Linked DNA regions of Homo sapiens. The protein of the gene in region 4 purifies or fractionates together with the protein of the main gene of each other region. This does not show direct contact. Each region holds a gene or a part of one and is shown on either strand. Other genes may lie near its edges. The genes, in order: LUZP1, ERAP1, ACTA2 and DHCR24.

What was found.
Region 1: the proteins of DHCR24 (region 4) and LUZP1 purify together in Homo sapiens (affinity purification with mass spectrometry; 3 studies listed by BioGRID and IntAct, with this or other methods). This does not show direct contact.
Region 2: the proteins of DHCR24 (region 4) and ERAP1 purify together in Homo sapiens (affinity purification with mass spectrometry; 4 studies listed by BioGRID and IntAct, with this or other methods). This does not show direct contact.
Region 3: the proteins of DHCR24 (region 4) and ACTA2 purify together in Homo sapiens (affinity purification with mass spectrometry; 3 studies listed by BioGRID and IntAct, with this or other methods). This does not show direct contact.

Annotation. Positions count from the first base shown.
Region 1 is NC_000001.11:23,088,755-23,095,927, forward strand, and holds part of LUZP1 (leucine zipper protein 1), read right to left. Parts: intron 5,627-7,173; 5' UTR 5,508-5,626; coding exon 2,436-5,507; intron 300-2,435; coding exon 141-299; 3' UTR 1-140.
Region 2 is NC_000005.10:96,804,870-96,812,956, forward strand, and holds the start of ERAP1 (endoplasmic reticulum aminopeptidase 1 isoform b precursor), read right to left. Parts: upstream 3,077-8,087; 5' UTR 2,991-3,076; exon of another isoform or gene 2,589-2,990; intron 1-2,588. UniProt on the Homo sapiens protein: Aminopeptidase that plays a central role in peptide trimming, a step required for the generation of most HLA class I-binding peptides.
Region 3 is NC_000010.11:88,942,666-88,949,838, forward strand, and holds part of ACTA2 (actin, aortic smooth muscle), read right to left. Parts: intron 6,289-7,173; 5' UTR 6,266-6,288; coding exon 6,137-6,265; intron 4,722-6,136; coding exon 4,593-4,721; intron 1,243-4,592; coding exon 1,132-1,242; intron 1-1,131. UniProt on the Homo sapiens protein: Actins are highly conserved proteins that are involved in various types of cell motility and are ubiquitously expressed in all eukaryotic cells.
Region 4 is NC_000001.11:54,870,196-54,877,195, forward strand, and holds part of DHCR24 (delta(24)-sterol reductase precursor), read right to left. Parts: intron 5,853-7,000; coding exon 5,747-5,852; intron 5,017-5,746; coding exon 4,898-5,016; intron 1,419-4,897; coding exon 1,155-1,418; intron 1-1,154. UniProt on the Homo sapiens protein: Catalyzes the reduction of the delta-24 double bond of sterol intermediates during cholesterol biosynthesis.

The DNA.
Region 1 (7,173 bases), about 32 Mb from region 4:
GCCACAGCCCGGCTCTACCACAGTTTTCCAGCCAAGGCTTGTGTCTTGCCTGGTTAACTGGCCTTGGATCCTTCGTGGGGCAGGACGGTGGAAGAGCTGAGAAGCAGGAGCAGAGGGCAGACAACAGACACCCAGCGGGCTCAGTTCTCCTCAGCACAGGGCCTGGTTGGCCGTAATCGTTCCTCGGCCCGTACTCGCCCAGACTCTGGCAGCCCCTGCTTCCCAGGCAGTTCAGACGGATCCAGGGAGTTGTGCAGTTGCCTGTAGACACTGAGTGTACAGTCTTCCCCTTCTTCCTCCTGTGCCAATAAATAACAAAAGTGAGCTGTGGAGGTCAGTAAAGTGAGGACCGAGACACCCTCACCTGCTACCATAGTGGGTCCTTTCCAACCCAGCAGAGGCAGATATAGCCCAGACAGGCCATAAGTTAACTGCAAAGATATGCTTTTGCCTGAGTATGGGCCAATATGTAAATTCCTTGGAAATCGGCAGACTGGGAACTCCAAGCTGCTGGGAACAATCAGGGTAGGCTAGGAGGAGGCTCACAACTCAACAGGAGCCTTACAGAGGATAGAGCCTGGAATGGGGGCATGGGACTAGCACCCCTGAGGAGGGGCCAGCAGTCTCCGAGTTCTGCACATGCATGCAGGCCGCATGATTCTGGGGATGAGGTCCACATCCTTGATGGGGAGCTGAAGAGAGGTCCGGACAGCTCTCTTCCTCCTTCCCACATACAAACTACCAAAAAGCTCACATTCCCGTCTCTCATCCTTTATCTCTCCTCTTAAATGTCCAAAGCTTCAGGGGCCCAAATAGCTGTCTTTCTCCCTACGCCTAGAATTCTACCTTTTTTTTTGAGACGAAGTCTCGCACTGTCTCCCGGGCTGGAGTGCAGTGGCGCAGTCTCAGCTCACTGCAACCTCCGTCTCCTGGGTTCAAGCGATTCTCCTGCCTCAGCCTCCCAAGTAGCTGGGATTACAAGCACGCACCACCACACCTGGCTTTTTTTTTTTTTCTTTTTTTGAGACGTCATTTCACTCTTGTTGCCCAGGCTGGAGTACAATGGTGCGATCTCGGCTCACTGCAACCTCCGCCTCCTGGGTTCAAGTGATTCTCCTGCCTCAGCCTCCTGAGTAGCTGCGATTACAGGCATGTGCCACCACACCCAGCTAATTTTGTATTTTTAGTAGAGACGGGGTTTCACTATATTGTCCAGGCTGGTCTTGAACTCCTGACCTTGTGATCCGCCTGCCTTGGCCTCCCAAAGTGCTGGGATTACAGGTGTGAGCCACCACGCCTGGCCAGAATTCTACCTTTTTAATATTCTCCTTGGTTCTCCCAAGCAAATGCAGATCAAAGAATAACATAGGCATGAGTAAGAAAGGTTAGAGTAGAAAGAGCATTGGATTTAGAGACAGGAATCTTGGATTCAAGTCTTCGCTCTTCCAGTAATTCTGCTGGGTGACCTTAGGTAAGATATTTTGTGTTTCTGACCCTTAGCTTCTACATCTGAAAAATGGGGATAATATCTGCCCCCAGGCAGATATTCAAGGGACTGAATAAGATAGTGGGTAGTGAAGTACTTTTGTCCAGTGTTAAGTACCCTGTAAAGAGTCACAGGGCTTTTCAAGTTAACAGAGTCATCTGCTTTTTTAAAGAAGGGAGCACTGTGTCCAGGTCCAAGAAGTTTTTCATCATCACAGGTTTCTCATCAAAAAGACACTCCCAGGGGCTTCTCCAGATGCTGTTCTGACACCCTGAGCCTCACACTCACATAAGGCAGGTGGTTCTGGATTTATCAAAGCTGTAATGAGCTATACTGAACCAGCCCTGCCCTCAGACTGATAATATGAGACAGACAGCTGTCTGGGGGGCAAAAGAAAGTGTCACTTGGAATTGGGTATACGCTTATCTAAAATAGGCCCAGTGTAAGCCCCGGCTCTCCTCATCCCTGAGAGGCCAGCAGCCTGTGAAGATCTGCTAACTGAGGCGGCCGAGAACTTGCTGACCTGGCTCCCCCTCACTGTGCCCTACAGAAAGGGCACCGGGCCTCCTCCTGTTGCCCAGAGCTCCCCATCAGCTGCAGCTGCTTCTTGTGCTTTTCATGCTGTTCTGAGGGCCTACGGGGAGCTCCTTTAGCTGCTCTGGCAAACCAAGGGAAGAGAAGACAGATTTCCTTTTTATGTCACCTTCATATACGAGAGCAAAATGAAGACAACAAATTGGAAAAGGGATTTTGGAAAGTGATGCTGCCAAAAACCTTCTTTAGGAGAAAGGTCAAACCCCCCTGATTTTTCAACAGTTCTCTAAGGAACCCAGTTCTACTCAGTTCTCAAGATCCTGGGTCACACAGGCCAGAGCAGAGGGGAAAAAGGAAAAGGCAAAGAAGGAAAAGGGAGGGAGAAAAGAGAGAGGGGAGAGAGGCTGGAACTCACCATGCTTGCTGAGTGGTTCCAGGCTGCGACAGTGATGGTGTCTCCTACCCGATTCCGACGGGTAAGCACCTCTGACACAGTGAGGCTACTTTGGGTCCTTCTGGAGGAGGGCTCAGGGGCATCCCCTGAACTTGGTCCTACCCTTCGAGTGCCCTGCTCAAAAAGGCAGGACCTGGGCTGTTCGAGTTCTGAGAAGTCTGTGGAAGACCTCTGGGTGTAGGCATTGCTATTGGTAGATTCCACGTTTTTACCTATTCGAGTTGGGGGGTCTTCTAAAGATTTCAAGTCTCGCCTACTCTTCCAGGCATTCCGCACAGTAACATGTCTGGCATCTGAGAAGCCCACTTCTGAAGGGGCACTATGGCTTTTCCACCTGATTGTCTCCGCTGGAGGTGCATGGCTATTCCTCTCCACAGGATCCGATGGCTTGATTATAATGCTGCTCCGAGAGACCACTGTTTCTGGCCTGTCCTTCAGGGGCCCATCTGCCATTCTCTCCGCTTCTGCAAGCTGCAGGGTGATGTCATGTTTGTGAATGGAGAGCTCAAAAGGGGAGCTGACATGGTTGCTAACTGATGTGAGCTCTGCCAGCCCCACCTGGATATTGCTAGTGGATGTGTGCCTCTCCCTCAGGGCCTCACCCGGAGCAGCTCTGGGGCTGCTGCTGTCAGATGGATATATAGTAATGCTACTTGTCACTTTGTTTGGCCCTGGTTTGGAGACGGGTTTCTGTTTCTCCAACGTAGTCTCTGTTCCAGATCCTCCCATGATTTTTTTCACATCCTTATCAACAATAACAGGTTTGATGATGGCTCTAGACCGCAACGCCTCTCTGGGGCTAAAGGGCCTTTGGCTTTTTACCCCAGCACCATTGGTATCTGGGAGCTCCATGGTATTGGTGGAGGCTCTGACAGATTTCACAGATTCATTCTCCATTCCAGCATCTTTATCATTCTCAAATAGGGAGGTTCTAGGTGCCCCTCGGGTTTTAGCCTTTTCTCTAGAGTTAGGCTGTGGTTTGGGCTCTGGCTCTGGAGTGATGGTTGTATTTACCAACTTGGCAGTAACAAGAGATGCTATGTCCAAGTCATCATCTGAGTCTGGCTTCTCTCTGCCACTGGATTTGATGACTCGACACCTCAAGGCTTCATGCGGACTGCTGTCTTCCATCACAACTGCTGCAGGTTGATTAACCCCTTCTTTATGTGAGGTTGAAAATCCCTGAAGGATGTTCTCTTGGCTTCTACAGCTATAAGGATACTTCGATAGAACAGGAGCCTTGGAATTCGGGCAACTGTTATCAGCCTCAAGGCCATTGGCAGCCTTTTTGCCTTTAGAGAGCCCTTCTGAGGAGGATCTTCGAGATGAGGCCAGGGCTCCAATGGCCTTAGAACAGCCAGAGTTTGCAGCCTGAGTTACTTGACTTCCGTTGCCAAGCACGTGTCCCCTCTTGCCAAAGACAGTCTCAGAGGAGGTGTCAGAAGCCTTGTCAGCTCTACCCAATGGGTCACTGGGAACAGATCCATGGGTGGTGTCACTAAACGTTCGTGTTGTCTTCTCCACTTTTCCCTTCAGTCCGCTCTCGGTGCCTGGCTTGGAAGTCCCCTTCCACGCTTTACTGTGCTCCTGAGCAGCCGGGGGGTAGCGACTCAGCACTGAGGGCTGCTCCCTAGACTTCTTCCCTTCGCTCTGGGAGGAGCCGGGTACAAACCGGTCTTCAGTTTTCTTTGTCTCCTGAGTCCCACTGTCTGTACTCACCCCCATGTGAGAAGCTTTTGCTGCCCTCCTGTTGGTGAAACTGGGAGAAGAAACCTGCCTGTTGCTCAGAGAATAGTTTTCATTGTTGAGAGCAAACTCCCTGTTCCGGAGTCGTTCCCGCTTATGCTGAGGAGACAGTTCCCGCGCTGTGTGCTTGGACACAGAAGCTTCACTTCCGTGGCCTCTAAACTTAGTCCTCTCATGTCTGCCTTTGCTGGACAGGAAAGCATCTTCCCCTTCTACCTCTCCATTTTCTAACTCTTTCTGTTTCTTGATTTGTAGCTTTATCTCCTCCAGTTGGCTGGCTAATAATTTGTTTTTATTTTGTTCACTTAGGTAATTATCCTGAAGGTCGTTATTTTTGGACTTCATTTTCTTAAGCTCTTCTTCCAACGATTCAAAGTGTTTGATTTGTGTCTTAAGTTTCTCAATCTCTTGGTTAAGGTCTTTGACTTTGTTGTCTTCCTGATTGCGGTTCTTTTCATTTTCTGATTTGTTTCTTGTTTCATTCTCTACCTGCTTTAGGTAGTCCAGACCACCCTTCCTTCTTGATTCTTTGGACGGCAGTGTGGAAGAGATGCCATCCTCAATCCGTAGGTCATTTCTTTCCAGATTAGAAGCATTCCTTGTATAATCTCGGTTCATTTTTTTGTTCTGCTCTAGTTTTTGAGTGAGTTCTTTTATCAATTTCTCATTTTCTTTCTCCTTTTCATTCAAGTATTTTCTCTCACTTACAAAGCTCAGAGTTAATGATTTCAGCTTTTCTAACTCTGACGCTAAACTCTGCTCAGTTTTATCCAGGCGGTCCTCAGAAGATTCTAGTTCTTTCACTTTGACTCTGAGCATTTCCAGCTCAGAGGAGATTTTCTTGGTCAGATTTCTCTCCTCATTCAGGCTCAGACACAGCTGGGTACAGTCATTCTTACTCCTGCTGAAGGCCTCTTCTAGCTTCTCTAATTCAGCCATTCGTTTCTGAAGCCGCTCAATCTCAGATTTCAGCTCCCGGGTGAGGTTTTCTTCCTCTTCAAGTTTCTCCTTCATCAGACGACACAGATCCTCTGCTCTCTTAATTTCCTCGTCTTTGCCTTCAATTCTCAGCACCCGCTGGCGCAGCACTTCAATCTCCGCCAACATGCTGGAGTTGCTACCTTCTGCCTGAATCACCTTGTCCTGGAGATCCAGGAGTTCATCCTCTGCTTTCTGGAGGTTTTTTGTGGCTTCCTCCAACTCATCAAGGCGGCGGCTTAGACTCTGTAGCTTAAACCGCAAGTGGCGGCTGGAGGCCGTCTCCTTGTAGCTTGTAAATTCGGCCATGTCTACTGCCAGCCAATGTGGGCTCCTAGAGGCATCCAATTCCACTCAAGGGGATGAGAAATGGTTACCTTTCTCTTGGCAACCACAATCTTCTTTGACAGCTGGAGACCATCATCAATCTACAAAAGGAAAGTAGAAAGCATGTCAGTCAGCAAATGTAAAACCTGCACGTTAGCTCCCAGTTATAGAAAAGTGCTCCTATCTGTTCCTGGTGCCTGGATCATAGCAGGGGCTCAAACCTGTTGAATGAATGACTTGAATAAACCTGCAAGAAAACACTGGTTCTTTATGGCCGATATTGAGTTGATACCTCATTTCGCCCTAATAAAGAATGTCACCAGTGGCAGCATGGCAAAAAGACATATAAGAAGCCTCAATTTTCATGGCAGGGTATAATAACATCATTACCATCTGCAACCTGCATAATCTCAGGAGAGTCATTAACAATGGAAACTAAGTCTCAGTTTTACTTAGTGGTAAAATGGGCATAATGATGTCTACCGTATTTCTCCCCAGTGTTGTTCTGAGATAATATGTGGAAGATCTTGGTAACAAAGCAATAAACAATCCTAAGATTTTTTTTTTTAAAGATTATCTCTTATGAGCTATTGTGACTTAAAAGTGATACAAATTAACCCTCTGCCTTGCTATAAATGGTGAGCTTCACAATATACTAAAACAATCTCTCTACACCCATTTTCAACATCTCTTCTCCCAAAAGTATATTTGTAAGTGGAATTCAGGTGTGAGTTGGCCCGACCCAGCCAACAGGCAGCTTCTACAAAACATATCCTTTTGCACTGTAAAAGAAATGCCCCAGATGTTAAGGTTGGTATGAAGACTGGTTTGTTTCTTTGAAAGCCATTTCACTGGGGATATATACCAAACATATAATAATACCCCAAGGAAATAGAGAAAGGGGAAGGTTTAGTTTTTTTATGTAATTTTCTCATTTTTAAAACAGGAGAATGGATTGATAAATGTATTTTAAACAGCTTTCATGAACAATAAGTCCTACGAAATTAAAAGGCAAACAACAGACTTCCATTTCCACCACTACAGCAAACCAGATAACCTGGAAAACCTCTAATACTATAAAACAGCTAAAAATACTGAATAAAATGTAACAATCACTTAAAATGTATAGTTGATCACATAGAAAGTAAGTGACATTCCAGCTAAAACCAGAGGAAAAGAAAACTAAATGAAAAATAATAGTAAGTTTAAACTACCACTGAGCTGTCCTTCTTAGGGTCTTGCCGATCTCCAGAACCAAGGAGTTTGGGTTCTAACAATCATGCAGGTATAAGAGGCAAGAGTTTGGGCTCAATAGAGGTGGTAAGTTGAAAATGAGACTCCAGTCCCCAATCTAAAGCAAGGATTATTGAAGAACTACAGCTCCAGGATAACTAGTGAAAAAAGTCACCTCCCTGATATAGGGAGATAAGAGGACCCGGGCTCTATTAGGGGTTAAAGGAGGATTATCCCTAGAGAATTTATAATCTTAGACCTGCTCTCACTTGAATTCAGAGTTCAAATTTATACCATCTGAGTGGTCTAGAACCTATCTGTCCTGAGAAACTAACATAAAATGGCCATCAGCCTAGTAATATCCCTGGGAAACCTAGCTGAGCAAACAAAAGTACTCTGGAGGGAGCCACTCTCT
Region 2 (8,087 bases), on a different chromosome or scaffold from region 4:
TGGGAGGCAGAGTTGCAGTGAGCTGAGATTGCACCACTGCACTCCAGCCTGGCAACAGAGCAAGACTCTGTCTTTAAAAAAAAAAAAAAAAGGCAATGTGAATTTTAAGGAAGTTGGCAAACCATGCCCCAAGCATCAAACATAAGTTTTTATTTCTTTTATACAAACGCACCTTTCTAATGGGTGTTTGCCAAGAGGGGCCCATACCAGGTGAATGCAAGTGATTGGCCCAAACTCCTCGTGTTCCAGTTGGGAAAAGTAGCAAGCTTACAATGTGGATCCCTCAAAGTGTTCACAGTACATGGAATTCTCCCTCTCTGAGATGTCAAGTTTCCTAACTCTGGCTGCATATTAATGTAACCTGGGAAGCTTTTAAAATTTTCGATGCCTGGGTCCTTATTGACAACAATTAAACTGGAACCTATGGTGATAAGATCGGGGTATGGTTTTACGGATTGTTTAATTTCTGGTTTTTGGTTTTTTTTTTTAAAAAAAAAAAAAACTGTCCAGAGATTTTACTGAGAAGCCAAGGTTGAAAAGCTCATCCTTGCCAAATCCTGGCTTTCCCCCTTCAACTCTATGTGATAGGATACTAATTCAAGGCAATGGCTGAAGTGCCTTCCCTAACCCCTGACTTCCTTGCTCCCTTCCCAAATGCACAGCTCAAGGGAATTCCCTTCTCCTCACCTCTGGAGCAATCTGGAGGCTAAACAGAAAGGATACCTACACATTAGAGAGAGTCTTGGAAATCTCATAATCCCAGTTCAAAAGGCACCACCCAGGTGAGACAGGAAGTGTGAACAGGGAGAACATTTTTTTGCCCTTGAAGTTGGGGAACTAGAGAGTAAATGGAACTTGTGTTTTGCTTTCCATATGGAATTACTGGCAGCAACAGCTTAATGAGCATCGCCCCTGCCCCAAGACGGGATCCAGAGGACTCTGTGAAGGTGGCAGGTTCAAGCATGTAAGGACTCTGAAAGTCCCCGAGACCTCTCCAACAGCCCCAGAGAAGATCTAGAAATTCCAACTCGTTATGAGCTGACAGAAAGGCTGATGTGCTGCGGAAGGGGTTGGTACCGGGACCTTGGATCAGAGGCTTTGCAGGGTTGGGTCCATGAGGGGTCCAAAGAGAAACAGTTATGTCTCAACGAGGATGCAGTGCATGAGTGGGGCTTGGTAAAAACTCCATGTAGTGAATAAAGGGCTTCACTAATAAATTCTCTTATTAATCCCAAACTGTAGGCTACATCCAAGATTCTGTGATCATGTTCGTGTGTTTGGCTCTTCCCCTGAAAAATTAGCTCTTGTTTGGCTTTGCTTCCAATAGTAAGTGTTCCAGTTTGAAACATGGCATTTCATGGTTCTGGCTGGTCTCCTAGGGTCTGGTTTTACTAACAATTTTCTGAAAGGGAGGCAGTTAAAAAAAAAGAAAGCTCTCAAAAACAGTAGTCTACTCAATATAAGCAGCTCTTCCCAAGAGAAGTACAATTCTCTTTGAAGTTACACTCCACTAACACTTAAAGGAATAGAAGCCAAGGAGGAAAAAGAACTAATATTTACTAAGCTCCTCCAAAGTGCCAGGCACTTTACACATGCTCACTCTCTCTAATAGCCTATTATTCTCATTCAAGGTGGGGTAACTGAAGCAAAGAACCATTCATGTAACTTTGCTAAGTTCACACAACTTGTTGGAATGCAATCCACATCTGTGTGAGTATAAACTCCCTGCTTTTTCAGCTTCACCAAGATCCCTCTTTTTTTTTTTTTTTTTTTTTTTTGAGACGGAGTCTCGCTCTGTCTCCCAGGCTGGAGTGCAGTGGTGCGATCTTGGCTCACTGCAACCTCTGCCTCCCTTCCTTTTATTGGGGCACTATAGTATATGAAATAGATCATCAAGAAGTAATTGAGGTTCTTCCAGAATTTCCTGAACAATGAAATTAACAAGCACTGTTGGTAAATAATAAAAATGCTGGATTAATTTGAAAAAAAAAAAAGTACTAGAATGTTTCTATTCAGGCCGCACCTGAAAATGTGCTACTTATACTAATTAAAAATCCTCAGGCAAGAGACAACTGTGCCCAATTTTCAAGTTTTTTGTTTTGTTTTGTTTTGTTTTGTTGTTTTGTTAATTGTTGACCACGTCCTGAGTTCAGAGCGAATCCTCTGGGTGTTTAATAGGAAACAGATAATTTCTTTCTGAACCTAGCCTACACAAAGAAATCCAAAAGCGTGAGGAAGTGTGTGCTCTCCCCCTTCCCCTCATGGAATTAACTTTGTAGGACCACCTGGCCAGTGAGGCACCCAGATAGGAAACTTTTAATTTGCGTCAACAGAGGTGCTTTATCTGAATAAAACCCAGCCAGAGCCAGAGCGAAGGGGAGAGAGAGAATTGCTGACCAGAAGAACAGGAGAAGCAGGGAGGGAAGTGACCTTAAGAACACACACGGCCCGCGCATCCCACCCCACCAGAGTCTTTAACCCAAAGCCTCTGGGTTTCTCTAGCAGCTATGGGCAGGTGCCCTCCTCAGCCCGAGCCAGCTGCCCGCCCCACCCCGCCTTTTGGCCTCGCGCGGGCGTCGGTGGCCTGCAGGACTGGCAGGCATCCAGGCGCCAGGCGGAGCGCTGAGGGAGGCTCCCGCCGGCCGAACAGCGGGGAGACCCGTGAAGCAGGCGCACCGGCCACGCGCCCGGAGGGACAGGGACAGGGACCGGCAGGGGTGGGCCCGCCGCCAACCCGCCGGGCACCCCGCGGACTCGGGCCTAGCCAGCGACTCCCCCCGCCCTTCCCGCGCCCTGTCTCGCGCCCCGTCGCCTTCCTCCCGCGCCCCGTCGCCTTCCTCCCGCGCCCCGTCTCCCTCCTCCCGTGCCCCGTCTCCCTCCTCCCGTGCCCCAGGCCCTCAGCCCCCCACTTGACGGGCGCAGGGAAGGGGCGGGTGCCGCGCTCTCCTCCCGGCCCGCAGTCCCCTACCCGCGGCTCGAGCGCGCTGTACCTGGGGTTCTGGGGCCGCCCTCACCCTTGCGCCGCCGCCACCACCACTGCCGCCGGCCTAGCTCCCCCAGGACCGAAAGTGAAAGTGGAGCCCGGGGAGCGGCAGGCTGGCGCTGAGCGGCGCTTCGGCCCGAGCCCTAGCGGCAGGCGGGGAAGCCCCTGGCTAAGGCGGGAGCTGGGGAAAGGGTAAACGGGAGTGGGGCCGAGCGAGGGAAGCCGCAACTCCCAGGAAGGGAATTGGTAAATGAGCGCTGCACGCCGGGGAAGCTGCGAGGTTGCGATGCGGGGGATCAGGCGTAGGAAGTGCACGCCTTTCTGAACGCGGATCCGTGTGTGTGTGTGTGTGTGTGTGTGTGTGTGTGTGTGTGTGTGTGTGTGTGTGTGTGTGTGTGTGTGTGTGTGTTGAGATGCTTTTTGTTTTTGTCTTTTTTTTTTTTTCACTGTTTAGCGTTGCGAGGGTTAGGGGCATGCAGGAAAGGGCCGGTGCTCAAGTTGGGGACCGAAGCCAGGCAGGCGCTGACAAGTCCACCAAGCCTAGACGCGTTCGACGCCCATTGGACTCGCTGGGTGTCCGTCATCTCGCCACTGCCAGTGGGCTGAGAGCTCTTGGCCCGCCTCGGAAAGAAACATGAACCCAGTACTCTGTCGTGGCAAAGTGCCGCACCTTCTGGGGCTTCGGTAGAGAATGACTACAGTGGGAGATGCTGTAGAGGAGGAAGGTGGGTTAGAGGTGGCCCCCAGGACTTTCCTGCACTACCAAGGGCCACTGTACCCCAAGGATTAGCTGCTTCCCGCATCAACACGTTCCCTCTGATTTTTCAAAGTAAATGACCATTTCTTCACTCCCCTTAGAACAATTAAAGCTGAATAAAATGGCCAAAAAGACCATCTTTAAACAGTTGAGGCTAAATGAGGTAACAAGTCAAGAAAACACAAACATTAAAACACCAAATGCTACAAGTTTATTACCGAAAATGGGTCCCGATCCAGACCCCAAGAGAGGGTTCTTGGATTTTGCGCAAGAAAGAATTTGAGGGGAGTCCATGGAGTAAAGTGAAAGCAAGTAATTAAGAAACTAAAGGAATAAAAGAATGGCTACTCATAGGCAGAGCACCCCCAAGGGCTGTTGGTTGTCCATTTTTAGGGTTATTTCTTGATTATATGCTAAGCGGGGGAAATTATTCATGCCTCCCCTTTTTAGACCATATAGGGTAGCTTCCCGACGTTGCAGTGGCATTTGTAAACTGTCATGGAGCTGGTGAGACCGTAGCAGTGACGACCAGAGGACACTCTCATTGCCATCCTGGTTTTGGTGGGTTTTGGCCAGCTTCCTTACTGCAACCTGTTTTATCAGCAAGGTCTTTATGACCTGTGTCTTGTGCCTACCTTCTATCTCATTCTGTGACTTAGAATGTCTAACCTCCTGGGAGTGTAGCCCAGTAGGTCTCAGCCTTATTTTACCCAGCTCCTATTCAAGATGGAGTTGCTCTGGTTCAAACGTCTCTGATAATTTGGTGAGTGGACCATGGTCCTAGTGGGAACAGGACCCTTTTCATGCGGTTCTCAGACTTTCTTCTCCCACTTCTTTATTGGCCTTCTTCCCTTTGAGAACTGGGGATTCCAAGTCACTGCAACAGTATTTCTCTTTTTTTTTCAATATTATGTTTCCTTTTTAAAAATATAATGTTTCATACTGCCTATTATCTCTAGTCAAGGACATTTTATAATATAAAGATTAACACCCTGTTCCAAGACTCAACTACGGTGGGATCCAGGGAAGTTTTTTTCACTAAAATTCAACAAGAAATGAGGACTTTGAGATCTGGTAATTTCTGCATGTTCAGAATTTGACAGGAGGTATCAATGGATAGCGTGTAGCCTCCAAGACCTCCAGACATCTCGGAGTGCTCCCAGTTTACTCAAGATGAGACCTCTTTGTCCAGTAAATGTATGCATTTCTTTGCTTTTATATTTATATTTTTGAATATGATGGTTTTCCTTTGGCTTCTAGTAAAGTTTTTTTGTTTTTGTTTTTGTTTTTTGTTTATGTGTCTTTTTAAATACATATTGAAAGTCCAGCTGGCAGAACTGAATGCACCCAACAGGCTGGAGGTTAATACAGAAGACAGCTGAGGAGACAAACAGGGCAATGCCCTGAATGGATGTGGGCAGAAAGGAGCTGAAGTGTAGGCGAGGAGAGAGCTGACACCACCACCCGCTCCACGCCGTTTCCCCAAAAGCTCACCCTGACTCAGACTTTAGCCTGTCGCCCTGGCCGTGATTTCGTCTTTAGAGTTGAAGTGCACTACAAAGAGCGATAAGTCAGAGGATTTGGCAGCATTCACTTCTAGTTTCAAAGCCCTAGCAGGGATGTAGAGGACACAGACCTTGGAGTAAGGACTTTAAGGAGTCCTAGTTCTAGAGCCTGTGAGATCAAAACAGCACATTACCGAGCTTAGAAATGGTTAGAAGGAAGGGAACAGAGAGAAAGGGTACCTAGGTTTATTGATTCCCTACCAACTGTTAGATACTGTTAAATGCTAGCTATGTGTGCATGTGTGTGTTTATAATTTGATCTCTTCAGCAACCCTGTAATGTAGATATTATGCTTTATAGATGAGAAAAATGAGACAGGTCGGCAACTTGCTCAGAGTCAAAGAGAAAACACACACTAATTCTACTCACATTGCATTGGCCAGAACAAGGAGGGGTTGGTAAACACTAATATTGTATACCATATAGTGTAGGAGGGCTGGTTGGCCGGTTGAGCCCATCCATTGCAGAGGCTTCTCAGTGTCCTTAGTCCCAGAGGTGAGCCAGAGGAATGAGGAGAATTTCAGGCCTAGGCCAATGAAATACATACCACTTTGAGCTATTACTGATCTACTTAAAAAATATTGAATTCTAGATATTGTCAAGTGATGTTCAATTTTGCTGTAATTGATTGATTCAGTTCTGCTTTCATTAGCTTTTAGTCAATTAATGTCAGCGTTTGGCTCATTTCTTCTGTTTTGCTGCCAAAGCTGCTCCTATTTTAATCATATTACCACTCTCCTTTTTGATGTAAAATCTCATCCAGAATCATGGTGTAGAAAACAGACAAAAGCAGGCCTGCTCTTATTAAACAGGGCAGCTCCACCCAGTCAGCCTTGCCCACTGCTATCCGGCCCTTCCACACACATTGTGGTCCTTGAGACTCTTCCATAGGCTCCCAGGGCCTTAGAACTTAATTTTTTTAAATGCCAATTTAAAAAAAAATAATAATGCCCCTCATTCTTGATATTCTTGATAAAGAGGATGACTTTTTTCCCCCTCTGTGCCAAGTTGCAGAGCAGGCTTGCTTAACAAAAGCAATACCATCTTATTAATAATCAGAAACAGGGAAGACGGTACAGATGCCATGTTAAAGACTGTTCCAAAACAGGCCACTGAGCTCATATCAAATAATAAAGTCCTCTGAAATGTGGCAGCTTGAAAGCATTTACATATAGTCTATCTCATGGGATCCTCACATTGTACTTATGCAGGTGGCTAGTAGCTCCATTTTTCTAGAATGAGGAAACAGGATTAGAGATGTGAAGTGACCTACCAGGGGCCACCACATGGAAAAAGCCTGCTTTAAAGTGAAGCCAGTTCAAAGGACAGCAGGGCTGACAGAGACAGAGAATACCTCCACTAAAGCCCTCAGCTCCAGCTGTCCTGAGCAAATCCTGTCCTTAGACCTTCCATTCAAGAGGACCAATGCTTTCCTTTTTGATTTAGCCAGTTGGAGTCAGTCTTCAGAGAGAGTCCTGTATTACCATACAACAGAGCACTATGGGAGCGAGCAATGTATGCCAGATTCTGTAGGAACAACTCAAGCAAGTTGAGTGACCACAGCTGCCCTTGAACTTCTAGAATTGTGGATCCTGAAGAACATTCTAGGTGCCACGAGGACTGATCACATGTTTCCCATTTTCCCTCCCTCAGGCATTTATTTCACAAGATACTGCTGTCTAAGGTAACCTGAGCATGTTTCCAGTTCTTGCAGCCTTACAGAACCCAGGGAATCCACCTGTCTCCAACCTTCCTCAGTAGGTGACAGGCCCATCTAACTGCTCTCTAGCCAGTCTTCTGTATTCCTGTTGCTTTTACCTTTGCTCGTGTCAACAAGGAGGTAAGTCACCATGACATATTTCTTAAATTTGTATTTCTTTCATCACTAATGAGACTGAATATATGCACTGAACATATGTTAATTAGCCGTTTTTGCTTTGTGTTTTCTCTTTTGAGAATTATATGTTTATGTTTCTTGTCCATTTATCTACTGGAGAATCACAATTCAGTTATATAAAAATTATCTATGACACACAAGAGAAAGCAATGAAATTTCTTTAAAATGCAAAGTGTCATAGTCAGTAAAGCTCTACTATTTCAAAGAAAACCCACAAATGTGTCTGGATAAATCATGTCAATTTCTTAAAAACCCAGATCTATACCCGTTATGGTGAGTTGTTTGAAATATCAGAATTTACTAGATATTGTCAATATGAACAGATTAAAGCAAACCTTTGTTTAGGAGGCTTTATTTTATTTATGGCTCCCTCTGCCACAGCTATTTCACAAAGAAAGAATGAATTATCCAGCCAGGAGTGAACATGATCTTTGCATATGCCTAAAGGAATGATAAAAATATTGGGATGAAAAATATGTAGATTTGTTTATTGTTATTTTTTGAGGGACCATGGTGTTATGCTACTAACTGTCTTGCCTTAGCTATAATGAATATCTGTTGCAATAACTAAACATGGGAAAAATAACTTTTCAAAACCTTAGTTTCTAGAAGGTTAATGGATTTTATTATATTGAAATTAAATGAGCTATGATACAAAGGAGAAAAGGAAAGAAACGAATAACTTTCTCAATGAAGTTCTGTAAAGTATATACAATTGGGGCCTGAAAAGAGAAACTCATTTATGCTCATCCATACATGGCAGTGTGAAATTGACAGAGTTTGGCTTAAGTGAAGTCTGTGGTTCTAGGAATGCTTGCAATTTATTGGAAAATTAGATTGTGATTATGGAAGAAATGACTCAAGTGGTCTTCAGGCCACCACAGC
Region 3 (7,173 bases), on a different chromosome or scaffold from region 4:
CTCCATCTGTAAGACCCTTCCTACTCTATTAACCAGAATGTCTGACATCATTTGCTAGCAAGCCATAATTTCCAACCATTTTTTTTTTTTTGCCTTCACACCACTGACAGGAACAATAATTCATCAGAAGCAACATCTCTTGCGACGTGCAGTGATTCCCAGGCCCACAGATGTTCCCCTGTAGAGAACAAGTGCTAGTGGGTTGGTGCAAGCACCAGGAGCTCTTCTGAGGAAAAGGCCTTGCAGTTATTTACATTTATGATTCTTCAATGCTGGAAGATCGTGGATCAATCCCAGGCTTTGCCAGTTCTAGCTGTGTGACCCTGGGAGAATTACTTAATGTATCTGAGCCTCAATTTCTTCATTTATGTAGTCAATATAATCATAGTTCCTGCTTCACATTGCTAGAACTTAAAGAGACAATGAATGTAAAATGCTGAGCCCAGTACTTGACCATAACAAGTATAGAATTGACACTAGACGTTGTTATTTAATAGCTCTTCCAAACTAGAAAACTCAGAGCTCTGTCTGGTGGGCTGGATGGGATTCTATTGTGAGGTCTTTAGCTTCAAACAAGTAATAATAATGACAATAGTAAGTACTATATTTTGGATGTTTATTAGGAACCATGATACACATCTGTCATTTCACCTCATTAATGTTCACATCAATCCTTGGAAAAATGATAGTATTAATATTACTCCCAACTTATAGACAAGGAAACTGAGGCTCTGAGAAATTAACGGAGTTCTTTAAGGTCACATAACTGATAAGTGGCAGATCCAGTTTTCAAACCTAGATATGTCTGACTCTGGAACCCAAATTCCTATTGTATGTGATGCTGCATTTTGAAGTGACTTCTCCTTAGACATTATAACTTAAACGTGGCCCCTTCTCAGTGAAATCTTTTAAATTTCCTATTGCTTTTGGAGGCAAAGGGCTGGTCCCTGCAGGAAGGATGCAAGTACTTTCAAGCTGTTCCTGTCCTTTGGGATCCCTGAGTTCACTGAAGGCTGTTAGTCTGTTGGTGGACTCCTAGCTCCGGCCTTCTCTCTGCTGTGCTGCATAGCCTCCTTCTAACAGAAGTTTCCCCAGACCCCACAGTGTTGTGTGCTGGGGTAGCATACTTACTTGAGTCATTTTCTCCCGGTTGGCCTTGGGGTTCAGGGGTGCCTCCGTGAGCAGGGTGGGATGCTCTTCAGGGGCAACACGAAGCTCATTGTAGAAAGAGTGGTGCCAGATCTAGTGAGTTGGGGGACAGAGGAGAAACACAATGATGTGCTGTCATGAGGTCCTGCATTTCCCAAAAAGGGACCAGAAGCTACTTGAAACCAAGACCAAAGGAAATGCTACAAGTACTCATGCATGTGTCCATGGTTTTATAGATGCAGAGACTGAAGCTCAAAGTGTGTAAGTACCTTCCCAAAGGATTCACATCTACTAAGTGACTGAGCAGAATCCCTAACCCAGATCTGTGAGGCAGGATGGTATGGCAGTTAAGGGCACAACCCTTGATCAAACCTTGGGTTCAAAGCCCAGCTCGGACACTTCTTAGTTGTGTGAGCTTAGGCAAGTTTTTAACCCTTCTCAGCTTCAGTCTCATGATTGGTAATAGGGAGATGAAAATAATTAGTGTGTACCTCATCGGGTCTTTGTGTAAATAAATAAGGTAACCCTCGAGTTATTGTCCAGCCCAGTGTCTGGTCCAGAATCAATGTTATTATTATTCAACTCTATTTTCTTTGTTCTCTCTTCCCATTTTAATGTTCATGGGAAAATGATTTAATTTTGTAAATAAAAAGACAAATGAATGTATATATGAATAAATGACGCTTACTTGAAAACCTAATTGACACTTTTAATGCTTCTAGAGAAGTTGCCCTTTGCAGTGTACATGAAGAAGAGAACAGGGCTCTCTGACTCTTGCCTCCATCACCCTCTTTGCTCTCGAGGGATGAGAAAAGCTTCCTCTATCAGCACACTCTGGATCTTCCACTCACAGTCAGACATTTGGCCTTCAGGTGTTTCCAAAAGGCCCACGCCTGTGTATAGTGTGTCTATGTGAAGGTACTTTGGACATAACTACATTTATTTATGGTTGAGCACTTTCTTTAATTCCTAGATGCCGAAAAGAACAAACCATTGCAAAAAGGACTAAATTAATTAATCTTTAAAAGCACGAAAATTCTCCACCAGAGCCAGGAATATGAGATTCACTCAAAATCAAAACAGAGCAAAACAAGAACTGCTGGTGAAAGCTTACAAATTAGCAAAACCAAGATTAGCTTTAAAGACTATCTTATTCCACTTTCTTTTGTTTTGGATTTGTGGTTTATAGAAGGGAAATGAAACTTCTGAAAGTTTTGTTTCTTTAGTGGAGTGAAAGCAGCAGACTGCTCAAAAAATCCTGCCAGTCACAGCAAGCAACCTTTCTCCTCTCTCTCTCTTCGTCCCCACCAGAAGATACTTTGAATTTAAATTTTAGAAATAAGGAAAGTTTTTTCTTCCAATAGTCTCTGTCTAGGACGATACATTCTAAGATGTTGTCAGCTCCATGGAGAAATTCTAAAAGAATATTTTCCTATTGATATTGATATCTTTTTCTCTGTGCAAACTGCAATCTTACCAAATCTAGAATCCTCAAGCAAACCTACTGATATGAAATTTTTGTAGAAAGATAGAGCTTGGAGCATTACTGCTGATAAATTCTAACAACATTATGTATTTTTCTTTTAAGTGATAAATTGTGTGCGTAGTAGTAGTAGTGAGCCGATAGATAAATAAAAGGCCAGATATCGTGATTCTGATATATCTTGCTGCATTTAAAATTTTTTATGTCACTTTCTCATTATTTCTTCTGTTTTTTTCTCTGATCACTGGTGTCTGTAATGTTTAATGACCAAACATCAAAATCTTAGAATTTAGCTCTTCTTCTCATTAGCTCTTTTATTAAGTGTCTGGGAGATAAGGCCTCATGTAATGCAACACAGATAAATAATTTTTAAAATATTTATCATATAGCTTTTTTCAGTGGCTCTTGTGCTTCAGTGTGTGGAGAGGCATTCAGAAATGTACCAAACCTGCAATGTTACACTCCTGTTTACTATAGTGAAAACAAAAACATTTTTAATTTAGATGTTTAGAGTGAGTTAATGAAAACCTTTCAAGAATGGGCTGTTTAAGACTACTCCCAGCATTTCAAGCCCCTTTAGCTATATTGCACTGAGAGGGATAACCATGCAGCCCCTGATGAAAATGAAAGGAGGGTTTTCATTCTCTGAGCTGCTGCTCATGCACTGCTTGTCCTAGGAGGGCAACAGAGTTGACGTGAGCAACAGATGATTAATTCCCTGCAGTGGCAAAGGGCTACTCTTCTCATCTACAGAACTATCATCCTTTAATTAGTTAATAAAACCTAATAGGCAAGGACATTTTTTTCCTTTTCTTTAGAGACAGAGTCTTGCTCTGTTGCCCAGGCTGGAGTGCAACAGCTGATGGTATGATCAGCTCACTGCAGCTTCGAACTCCTGGGCTCGAATGATGCTACCACCTCAGCCTCCTGAGTAGCTGGGACTACAGTTGCATGCCACCACACACTGTTAATTAAACCTTTTTTTTTTTTTTTTTTTCAGTAGAAACAGGGTTTTGCTATGTTGCTCAGGCTGGTCTCAAACTCCTGGCCTCAAGTGATCCAGTGCTGAGATTACAGGTGTGAGTCACTGTGCCCTGCAGGATTTTTTTCTTCTTTTTTTTGAGATAGGATCTCACTCTGTCACCTAGGCTGGAGTAGGATCTTGGCCCACTGCAGCCTCCATATCCCAGGCTCAAGTGATCCTCCCACCTCAATCTTTCAAGTAGCTGGGACTGAGGTGTGTGCCACCATGCCTGGCTAATTTCATTTATTTTTTGTAGAGACAGGATCTTACTATGTTACCCAGCCTGGTCTCAAACTCCTGGGCCAAGCGATCCTCCCACCTTGGCCTCCCAAAGTGTTGGGATTACACGTGTGAGCAACCATGCCTGGCAAGGGATTTTTTTTTAAAGAAACATTTTAGGATTTTTTTTTCTTTTTTTTTTAAATTTTATTATTATTATACTTTAAGTTTTAGGGTACATGTGCACAACGTGCAGGTTTGTTACATATGTATACATGTGCCATGTTGGTGTGCTGCACCCATTAACTCGTCATTTACATTAGGTATATCTCCTAATGCTATTCCTCCCCCTCCCCCCACCCCACAACAGTCCCCGGTGTGTGATGTTCCCCTTCCTGTGTCCATGTGTTCTCGTTGTTCAATTCCCACCTATGAGTGAGAACATGCGGTGTTTGGTTTTTTGTCCTTGCGACAGTTTGCTGAGGATGATGGTTTCCAGCTTCATCCATGTCCCTACAAAGGACATGAACTCATCATTTTTTATGGCTACAAGGATTTTTTTTTCAATGGGTAATAACCCAGAATGAACATTAACAAGTAAAAGTACAGTTGAGCAATGTGAGCCAGTTATTTCCCCAGCAGTAGTGTGGTGTTCTGTATCAGAGAACACAGGGATTATGCATCCTGAGGGCCCAAGCTGCAGCAAACCTCCCATACCTTTTCCATGTCGTCCCAGTTGGTGATGATGCCATGTTCTATCGGGTACTTCAGGGTCAGGATTCCTCTTTTGCTCTGTGCTTCGTCACCCACGTAGCTGTCTTTTTGTCCCATTCCCACCATCACCCCCTAAAAAGGTTCAACACATTATGAGTCAGCATCTCCCAAAACTTGTGAATCAATTACAGCCAAGCCACAAAAGGTTAAGTCATTGAGATGGGAAGTTCCTCTTCTGATTATCAGCAACAATAAACATATTGAGTCTCATTGCCACTATGCTCTTAAGCAAAATTCTGCAGTTGATTGGAAAAAGACCTGAATTGCCTCCAAATAACAGGAGATGTTGGGGGAAAGTCAACTTTACTTTGTATTTTTATCTCCTATGTTCCTTGATGAGCTTTTTTAGGGCAGAGATCATGTCTGTCTTGTCCATCACTATAGCAAATTGCATGGCACATATGTGGCACTCAATAATTATTTGTTGAAAGAATGTATACAATTTTACATATTTGTTAAATGGCATTTTGTGTCTTATAAATCCTTTAAACTGTACTTTTAAAGTCATCACCTACCCAAAAGAATATGAGCATTATTTTCTAACTATTATAAGCAAAAGCATTGCATCTACAAATAACCACTTGAGGCTTGATTTCTAATGGATAAGTTCATACCAATCAACTGTTAAGACATTTGCCTAAATTAGTCAGCTGCATTTAAAAAAAATCATTAAGGTGAAGTTCTTAAAAAATTATTGTTACTAGATTTTAAATTGCACTGCAGTGACTATTTTAGAACTACAAAACAGCCATGGCTACTATGGACCCATAAAATAGCGGCTTGTGCAGAATATCTCCACTGCATAAAGATCAATGAATTCAGACAGACTGCATTCATTGGGAGAGGTTTCTATTATTTATTCTCATGAATATATCCCAAGCAGAGAGGCATAAACATCAATCAGATAGCCTCAATGCACAAACTACATTTCTGATGTGAAGAAGAATTTCTGAGGTGAAATTACTGAGTTTTTACCATGTGATGCCACCAATACTTTGTTTACACATAATGTGTAAAATTACCATGCGGCTGTCCAAATATATTTTGTTGACAGGTAATATTATGTAAAATTGCATTTGGTATCGATGCTTGCTTTCATCTAACATCAGCCCTGTATGGTTAAGTGACCTGGACTTTTATTTTAGTTTCTTTCCAAACAGTAGCTTTGGTATACATCAGGATAATGTATAAGCATTTCTGATGGTGATGAAATGATTTGATGATGATGATGATGATGATAATGACTATATTTAGACAAAAAGGACATGAAAAAGGGGCAGACTTTGTATCTGATAGATGCCCATCAGATAATCTGTCTACATTATATGTGAAATTGGCATTTACTCCTGGACCTTAATCATTAGAGGTCTATTTGTAACAAGGTTACATAACTTCTGGGCAGAAAGAGATAGACAATCTGGGGATAAACATGAACACAGAGGAACCTAATCTGTGTCCTGTTATGTTCCAATCATAATTTTCCTCACCTGATGTCTGGGACGTCCCACAATGGATGGGAAAACAGCCCTGGGAGCATCGTCCCCAGCAAAGCCGGCCTTACAGAGCCCAGAGCCATTGTCACACACCAAGGCAGTGCTGTCCTCTTCTTCACACATAGCTGGAGCTGCTTCACAGGATTCTATAGAAAACAGGGAGGAAGCAGCCTCAGCTGTAATTGGGCATTTGTGGCACTTACCTGACAACTCCCACCTCCAAGGCTGGGTTTGGGGGCCCTCCTCTGTGTCCTAGTGCTATCCTCTGACCCTTATCTAATATAGCATGTATCTGGAAGTACTTTAGTTACACTATAAGCTTTCAGTAAGCTGAAACTCTGACTTCTGAAACTCTGACTTCTATGTTGATACAACCTTAGTGTAGTGACCGGCATATCATGTGTTCTCGTGAGCACTTTAAAGGTGGATAGAGCCAGTGAATGAATAAACAAACTGCAGAGCACAGATGGGAAATCCAGAGTCTGAGACCAGATCTTTGCAGAGACAAGTTGCCTACCTTATGTTAAAGAAGCATCTAGATTTTCCTGTCTGTATCAACCCAAATGCACATTTTTCTAGATATGCTATACCTTTTTGAAATTTTTTCAAAAAGCTAGATTTTTGAGGGACAGGCAGCATGTAAAAATTTAGAAATGTTAAAATGGTCAAGTGTTTAATGGAAAAATCTTTTTGAATCATGAGGACTTTTACTTTACCCTCAGAGAAGCTTTGAAATAAAATTTTCTGAGAAGGTGCTTTAAATTTTAGGGGCTGCAATTATCCACCGTTAATAAAAGTCACTGTTAAGCTAACAGTCCAACAAGTGAGGGTGAGCCTGATGGATTATATATCATATGGTAGAATACTTTACTGCCATTAAAAAGGTAGAGTAAGAGGATAAGCAAAAGGTAGTTCTTATGTAAGAGTAATAGGTTAGAAAAAGTAACATTGTAAATCTCATTAAAAATGTATTTTTTATGCATTGCAAAAAGATTAATCATATTTACCAAGATGTTGACTGAGGTTATTAT
Region 4 (7,000 bases):
TGGGCTACAGAGACCCTGTCTCAAAAAAAAAAACAATAAGAAAATAAATAAATAAAAATAAATAGGTCTCGAAGAATGCACACAAAACTGTTATACGTAAGTGGTTACACCCTGGCGTAAAGAGATGCACTTTAACTTTTTCTTTATATATTTCAGCATTGTTACATTACTTTTATAATTTAAAAACTTTCAAAAAAATCCATACAGAGAAAGAGGAAATAAATACAGTTGTCTCTCAGTATCCATGGGGGATTTGTTCCAGGATCCCCCAAAATCCATGAATGCTCAAGTCCCTTACATAAAATGATTTAGTATTTGCATATAACCCTATGCACATCCTCCTGTATACTTTAAATCATCTCTAGATTTCTCACAATACTTAATACAATGTAAATGCTATGTAACAGTTAAGGAATAATGACAAGAAAAAAAGTCTGTCCATGTTCATTTCAGATGAAACCATCCGTTTTTTGGCCCCTGAACGCTTTCAATCTGCAGTTGGTTGAATCCACTGTTGTGGAACCCACAGATACAAGGGGCCAACTGTGTACCAAACACATTAGCAACACTGGCTTTGGGACATATTTACAGGTGGAGTCTTTTCTTTCCTTTTTACTTGTTTGTACCTTCCAAGTCTCTTACAATAAGCACAAATCCTTTCCAAGTCTCTTACAATAAGCACAAATCCTTTCTAAATGGAGAAAAAACTGCTAATAAAAATTGCATGGTATATGTGGAAGGAATGTCAATCTAGATTCCAAGGCATCAAATCGATTACTCGAATCTTGTGGAAGTTTACATTACCTCTTTTAAGTGTTGGGATTACAGGTGTGAGCCACTGTGCCCAGCCTACATTACCTCTTGAAGACTCAGTTTCCTCATCTATAAAATGGGTTTGCTATAAGGACCAAAGATTACATCCACTAAGAGACAAGCACATCCCAGGCAGGTGGTAGGGGCAGAGTAGATGAAAGCTTCCATCACTGTCTAATACATTTCTGATGATAGATCCTGTTGCCTGTACCCCAGGTGGGTTGACCCAGGCAGCAGCCTTGAAGAGGTGGCTGCCAGGGTCAGGATACGGGAACCGGCTCAGTCCTAGCACACTCATGCCTCCCCAGTCTTGGTCAGCAGCAGCTGACACCCTGGCTTACCTTGCTGGGCTCTGCCTCATCTGTCATGACCCCTGTCATAATGACAGCCTCATCCAGGGAGTAGAGCAGCCCTTCCACGAAGTGGTTCTCCTGCCGCTGGGACTCGTGGGTGAACTTGGCACAGATAGCCTCCAGGCCCCGCACTGGCTCGAAACGCAGCTTGACGTACTTCTTGGCAGGGATGATGCGGATCTCAGCGGCCACCAGGAAACCCAGCGTCCCACAGGACCAGGGTACGGCATAGAACAGGTCTGAGTTTTCGGACTGTGAGACAGAATTGATGTGTTGTGAGCTGAAACCTTGGGCCCCACATTGTGGCATGCAGTCAGTGGGGGAGCAAAGCCTGGGAGAGTCCCTATTCTCTCACTCTCTTGTATAAACCCAAACAATGAGCTTTACAAACTGTGCTTGCTGGGCTTTAGTTTCCTCCCTGCAGCTTCGACATGACATGGAACCTAATACTGCCCTCTGTCTCAGGGACCCTCACTGAGAGAGCATCCTCCTTCTCCCATCTAGGTACAGCCCCTGACCCAGAGGCTATTCAGGAAAAAGCTGGGACTGGCACTGCTGCCCAACGACCCACAATGGCAGGGGCATTGCACAAGGGCAGGAGTCCAAGGCCAGGCCTTGACACCCTTTAGTGGGTGTCAGGCAGTGTAGCTGGGGAACATTAAAATGCCTCCCTTCTGAACCATTACTAAAATTTACAAGGCCTTTCCCAGTCCATCGGCTTGTGGGATCCACCCCCGACAGAGCCCAGGGAGAGCGCTAGCACCCCCTTATGACAAGTAAAGAAACTGAGTCTCTCAGAGCTGCCATGACTCACCAAAGTCTTCCCAGAAAAGTCAGCTGCAGCAATGCCAGGGCTCAGGCAAGACCACCTAACTCCCCGGCCAGCGTTTTTCCTACAACACCTCATCTGCTTCCATAAATCAATGTCCAACCTCATCATTTTATTGTTTTGACATTTGTCTTGGACACAGACAACTGACTTTTCCTTGGCCATTCTGATTGGGATTCTTCAGTTCTAGTAAAGAAAGCTCTTTTGAAAAAGTCCAGCCATGTCTTGCCTTTACTAAGAGGACAGCCCTGTGCAGTCTCCACAAAACCTGAATGCTCTTGGTGGTGGGCACAGTGAATGCAGCAGGGCAGGAGAGCTGGAGCAAGGAGGCTCTGCAGCAGGCTGGCAGAAACCTCAGGAACAGCAGCACTACGCTCACCAATTCCCCCTTGGGCCCACAGCTAATCACATTCTCCTGGCCATGGCAGTGAAGATGACACACTTGCTGCATGCTGAGCTCTATGCAAGGAGCTTCCCATACAGGACCTACTTATTCCTCTCAACCACATATTTGTCAGTGAGGAACCTGGGCCTCAGAGAAGGGAAAGAATTCACAAATGTCAGTCTCCTTTCTCTGCCGATAATAAATAGGTCAAAAGACAGGGCCCCGCAAGCGTTCAGGAAAGCAGGATGAATTGATGTGAATCTTGCTAGGGGTATCTCTCATCCAAGACCAGTGCTGCCAAGCTGGGAGTCTTTCCTTGGGCCCTCTTCTGTGAAGTGAAGGAGTCGGGTGGCTCCCTGAAATACCCACTTCAACAGGACCAACTGTCCCTCCCATCCCAGGGGTCCCTCACACCTGCCAGGACAGATCCAAGGTTATTTAAAGTGTCACTCCTATCCCACCCCTTAGGTAAAACGCTTTAAATGTTTGAATCCCAGTTTGGGTGGTAGAAGTGTTTCTTATTTTTCTAAAACATCCTCTCTAATCACTTTTACTTACACGATTACGTGCTACATAAAGACGTTGCAGTCAACAATGGGCCACAGATAAAATGGTGGTCTCATAAGATTATAATGGAGCTGAAAAAGTCCTGTTGCCTAGTGGTATCACTGCTATCACAGCTATCCTAATGTCATACTCATGTGTTTATGGTAACACTGGTGTAAGCAAACCTACTGTACTGCCAGTTGTATAAAAGTATAGCACATATAATTATGTACACTACATAATACTTGATAATGATAAATGACTCTGTCATTGGTTTATGTATTCACTACACTACACTTTTAATTGTTATTTTAGAGTGTACTCTTTCTGCTTATTAAAAAAAAGTTAACTGTAAACAGCATCAGGCAGGTCCTTCAGGAGGTATTCCAGAAGAAGGCATTGTTGTCAGAGATGACAGCTCCATGTGTGTTATTGCCCCTGAAGACTTTCCAGTGGGACAAGATGCGGAAGTGGAAGCGTTATTGATAATCTTGACTCTGTGTAGGCCTAAACTAACATGCGTTTATGTCTTGACCTTTTTTCTTTGAGACAGGGTCTTGCTCTGTCACCCAGGCTAGAGTGCAGTGGCGTAATCACGGCTCACTGCAATCTCTGCCTCCCAGGCTCAAGTGATCCTCCTGCTGCAGCCTCCACAGTAGCTGGAAATACAGGAACACATCACCATGCCCAGCTAATTTTTGTATTGTTTGTAGACCATGTTGTAGGCCATGTTGCCCAGGCTGGTCTCAAACTGCTAAGCTCAAGCAGTCCACCTGCCTTGGCCTCCCAAAGTGCTGGTATTACAGGAGTGAGCCACTGCACCCAGCCTTGTGTCTAAGTTTTTAACAAAAAAACTTTAACAAGTTAAAAAAAAAGTTTAAATAGAAACAAGCTTATAGAATAAGGATATAAAGAAGGAAACTATTTCTGTACACCTGTACAATGTGTTTGCATTTTAAGCTAAGTGTTATTACAAGAGTCAAAAGTTTTTAAAAAGTTTATAAAGTAAAAATGTTATAGTAAGCTAACAGTATTTATTATTGAAGAAAGAAAATTTCAAAAAATAAATTTAGTGTAGCCTAAGTGTACAGTGTTTATAAAGTCTACAGTGGTGTACAGTAATGTCCCAGGACTTCACATTCACTCACCACTCACTCACTGACTCACCCAGAGCAACTTCCAGTCCTGCAAGCTCCATGCATGGTAAGTACGCTACATAGGTGTACCATTCATCTTTTATACTGTATTTTTACTGTACCTTTTCCAAGTATAGGTATGTTTAGATACATAAATACCATTGTGTTACAGCTGCCTACAGTATTGAGCACAGTACCATGCTGTATAGGTCTGTAGTCAAGGAGTAGTAGGCTATCCAAATAGCCTACGTGTGAAGTAGGCTATCTCATCTAGGTTTATGTAATTACACTCTTATGATGTTTGCACAATGACAAAATTGCCTACAACTTGTTTCTTATAACATATCCCTACTGTTCTGTGACACATGACTGTACCTCACAGTGTTAAGACACACAGCTTTGATGCCAAGGCCTGACTTCCTCTCCAGAGAGGCAGGATGGCATAATGAACGGCTAAGGGACCTGGGAGCCTGATTACTGGGGTGTGAGTCCCAGCTGTGTGACCTATGGCAAATAATCTCTCTGAGCTTTAGTTTCCTATCTATAAAATAGGGATAATAATCCTTCTATTATTTAATAATAATCTATAAAATAGGGATAATAAACCTCCCTCATTAGGTTGTTGAAGGATAACATGCATGCCTTAATATATATAATGGATTTACAACATTGCCTAAGCTCATATAAGGGGCTACACAAATTTTTGTTTACAGATATAGACCCAGACTGAACAGGTACTGGGAATGAAGCACACCTAGAGGAGCCACCTCCCTGACCTCAGGATCCTTAATGCCCAGAGCAGGCTGGCATGGACATCTCCCATTGCTGAACTCACCGGAGTGCATCGCACAAAGCTGCCATCAGCCAGGACCAGCTCGTAAGCAGTGCAGATGTGTTGGAACAGGCCGTACTTGTGGGATGATGACTCGATGCCTGTGCCCATGATCAAGCCCCCTGCAGAGACATCACACACAGTGTCAGCAGGGAGAGCTGTGGGTACAGGGTTGGGGGTGGGTTGGAGCTGGGGGGCCTCCTAGCATGAGGGAGGTTTGGCAGGCTAGCAGAAATGGGGCTGTTGACTTAGGGGAGATTTCCCACCTGTCAATCTAGAGAGCAGGAGAGGGAAGGAGGGGCTCAGATGGGAGCATGAGGGTGTCCTTAGAGGAAGGGAGTGGCGAGCAGACCTTGTCAAGTGTACTCACACCTCACCTCTGGCCAGACTCAACCTAGAAATCTGTGTGCATTCATCTTGAGAGGGACTTTAATGAAAAGGGGGGTTGAAGGGGTGACAGGAAGCCCTGTCCCATGGGAATAGTTAAAAGAACTGAAGGTGTTTTCCCTGAAGAAGAAGAGGCTTTGGGGGCTATGAATCCTATGGGAGGAGAAGAGAGACTATACTTATTCTGTGTGTTCCATGGGGGGGAATTGGAGCAATGGGAACAAGTCACAGGGAAGCAGATTCAAACCAGAAATTAAAAGTGCCTTCTGATAACTTGAGCTGCTCAGAAATGGAACAGCAGGCAGTGAACACCCTGTCATTGGAGCAGGCAAGTAAGAGACTGAATGACTTCTGTCACAGATGGAATAGCGGCAATTCCAGGACTAGATGGAGGGTGGCCAAGGCCCATCAGCTCCGGTCCTAGGACCGTGTGTCTCTTCTTGCCCGTTAATATAGGGTCCTCACCCACTGTGAGGTCATCAAGCTCAGGCAACACGGGGAGAGTCCAGCCAATGGAGGTCAGCAGGGCAGTCACCTGGCCCATGGTCACCAAGGGCTCCACACGGACAATCTGTTGACACAAGAAAAGAGACCCTGGGTCAAAAGGAGGCTGCCAGGCCCAAGGGGAGCTGCTGCACACAGAAGGTGTCATCTCAAACCTTCCCAAACACTCACTGCAGGGATTCCTATATAGCCTTTACAGGCTCTTTCTAGAACATTGCCTTTAATTACAGGGAATGTGATTTCTGGCTCTCGGTTAGCTAGTGTTCAACCTCGCCCTTCAAGTATCTTTATACTAAATATTTGACTTAACCTTTTCTAAATTACAGGAGAAATACTCATTCACTTAGAAGATACAGCAAAAGTGAAGAAGAAAACAAAAATCACCCATCCTGGCTGGTCGTGGTGACTCATGTCTGTAATCCCAGCACTTTGGGAGGCCAAGGCAGGTGAATCATCTGAGTTCAGGAGTTTGAGACCAGCCTGGCCAACTTGGTGAAACCCTGTTTCTACTAAAAATACAAAAATTAGCCAGGCGTGGTGGCGGGCACCTGTAGTCCCAGCTGCTTGGGAGGCTGAGGCAGGAGAATCACTTGAACCTGGGAGGTGGAGGTTGCAGTGAGCCGAGATCGTGCCACTGCACTCCAGCCTAGGCAACAGAGTGAGACTCCGTCTCAAACAAACAAAAAAAAAATTCACCCTTCCTAGTTCTTCAGAATTACTAATGTTAATAACACAGTGTATTTACTTTGGTTTTTTTTTCCCCACACATACTGTATTGGTACTGTGAACCGCAAATATCAGAGACAGGTCTCAGTTAATCCAGAAAGTTTATTTTGCCAAGATTGAGGATGTGCGCCTCTGATACAGCCTCAGTACGTCCTGACAACATGTGCCCAAGGAGGCTGGTGCACAGCTTGATCTTACACATTTTAGGGAGACAGAACACATCAATCAATATATGTAAGAAGTATAGTGGTTCTGTCCAGGAAGGCGGGGACAACTTGAAGCAGGGAGAGGGCTTGCGGTCACAGGTAGATAAGAGACAAATGGCTGCATTCTTTTCAGTTTCTGATAAGCCTTTCCAAAGGAGCTAATCAGAATATGCATCTATCTCAGTGAGCAGAGGGATGACTTTGAATAGAATGCGGAAGCAGGTTTGTCCTGAGCAGTTCCCAGCTTGACTTTTCCCTTAGTTTAGTAATTTGGGGGCCCCAA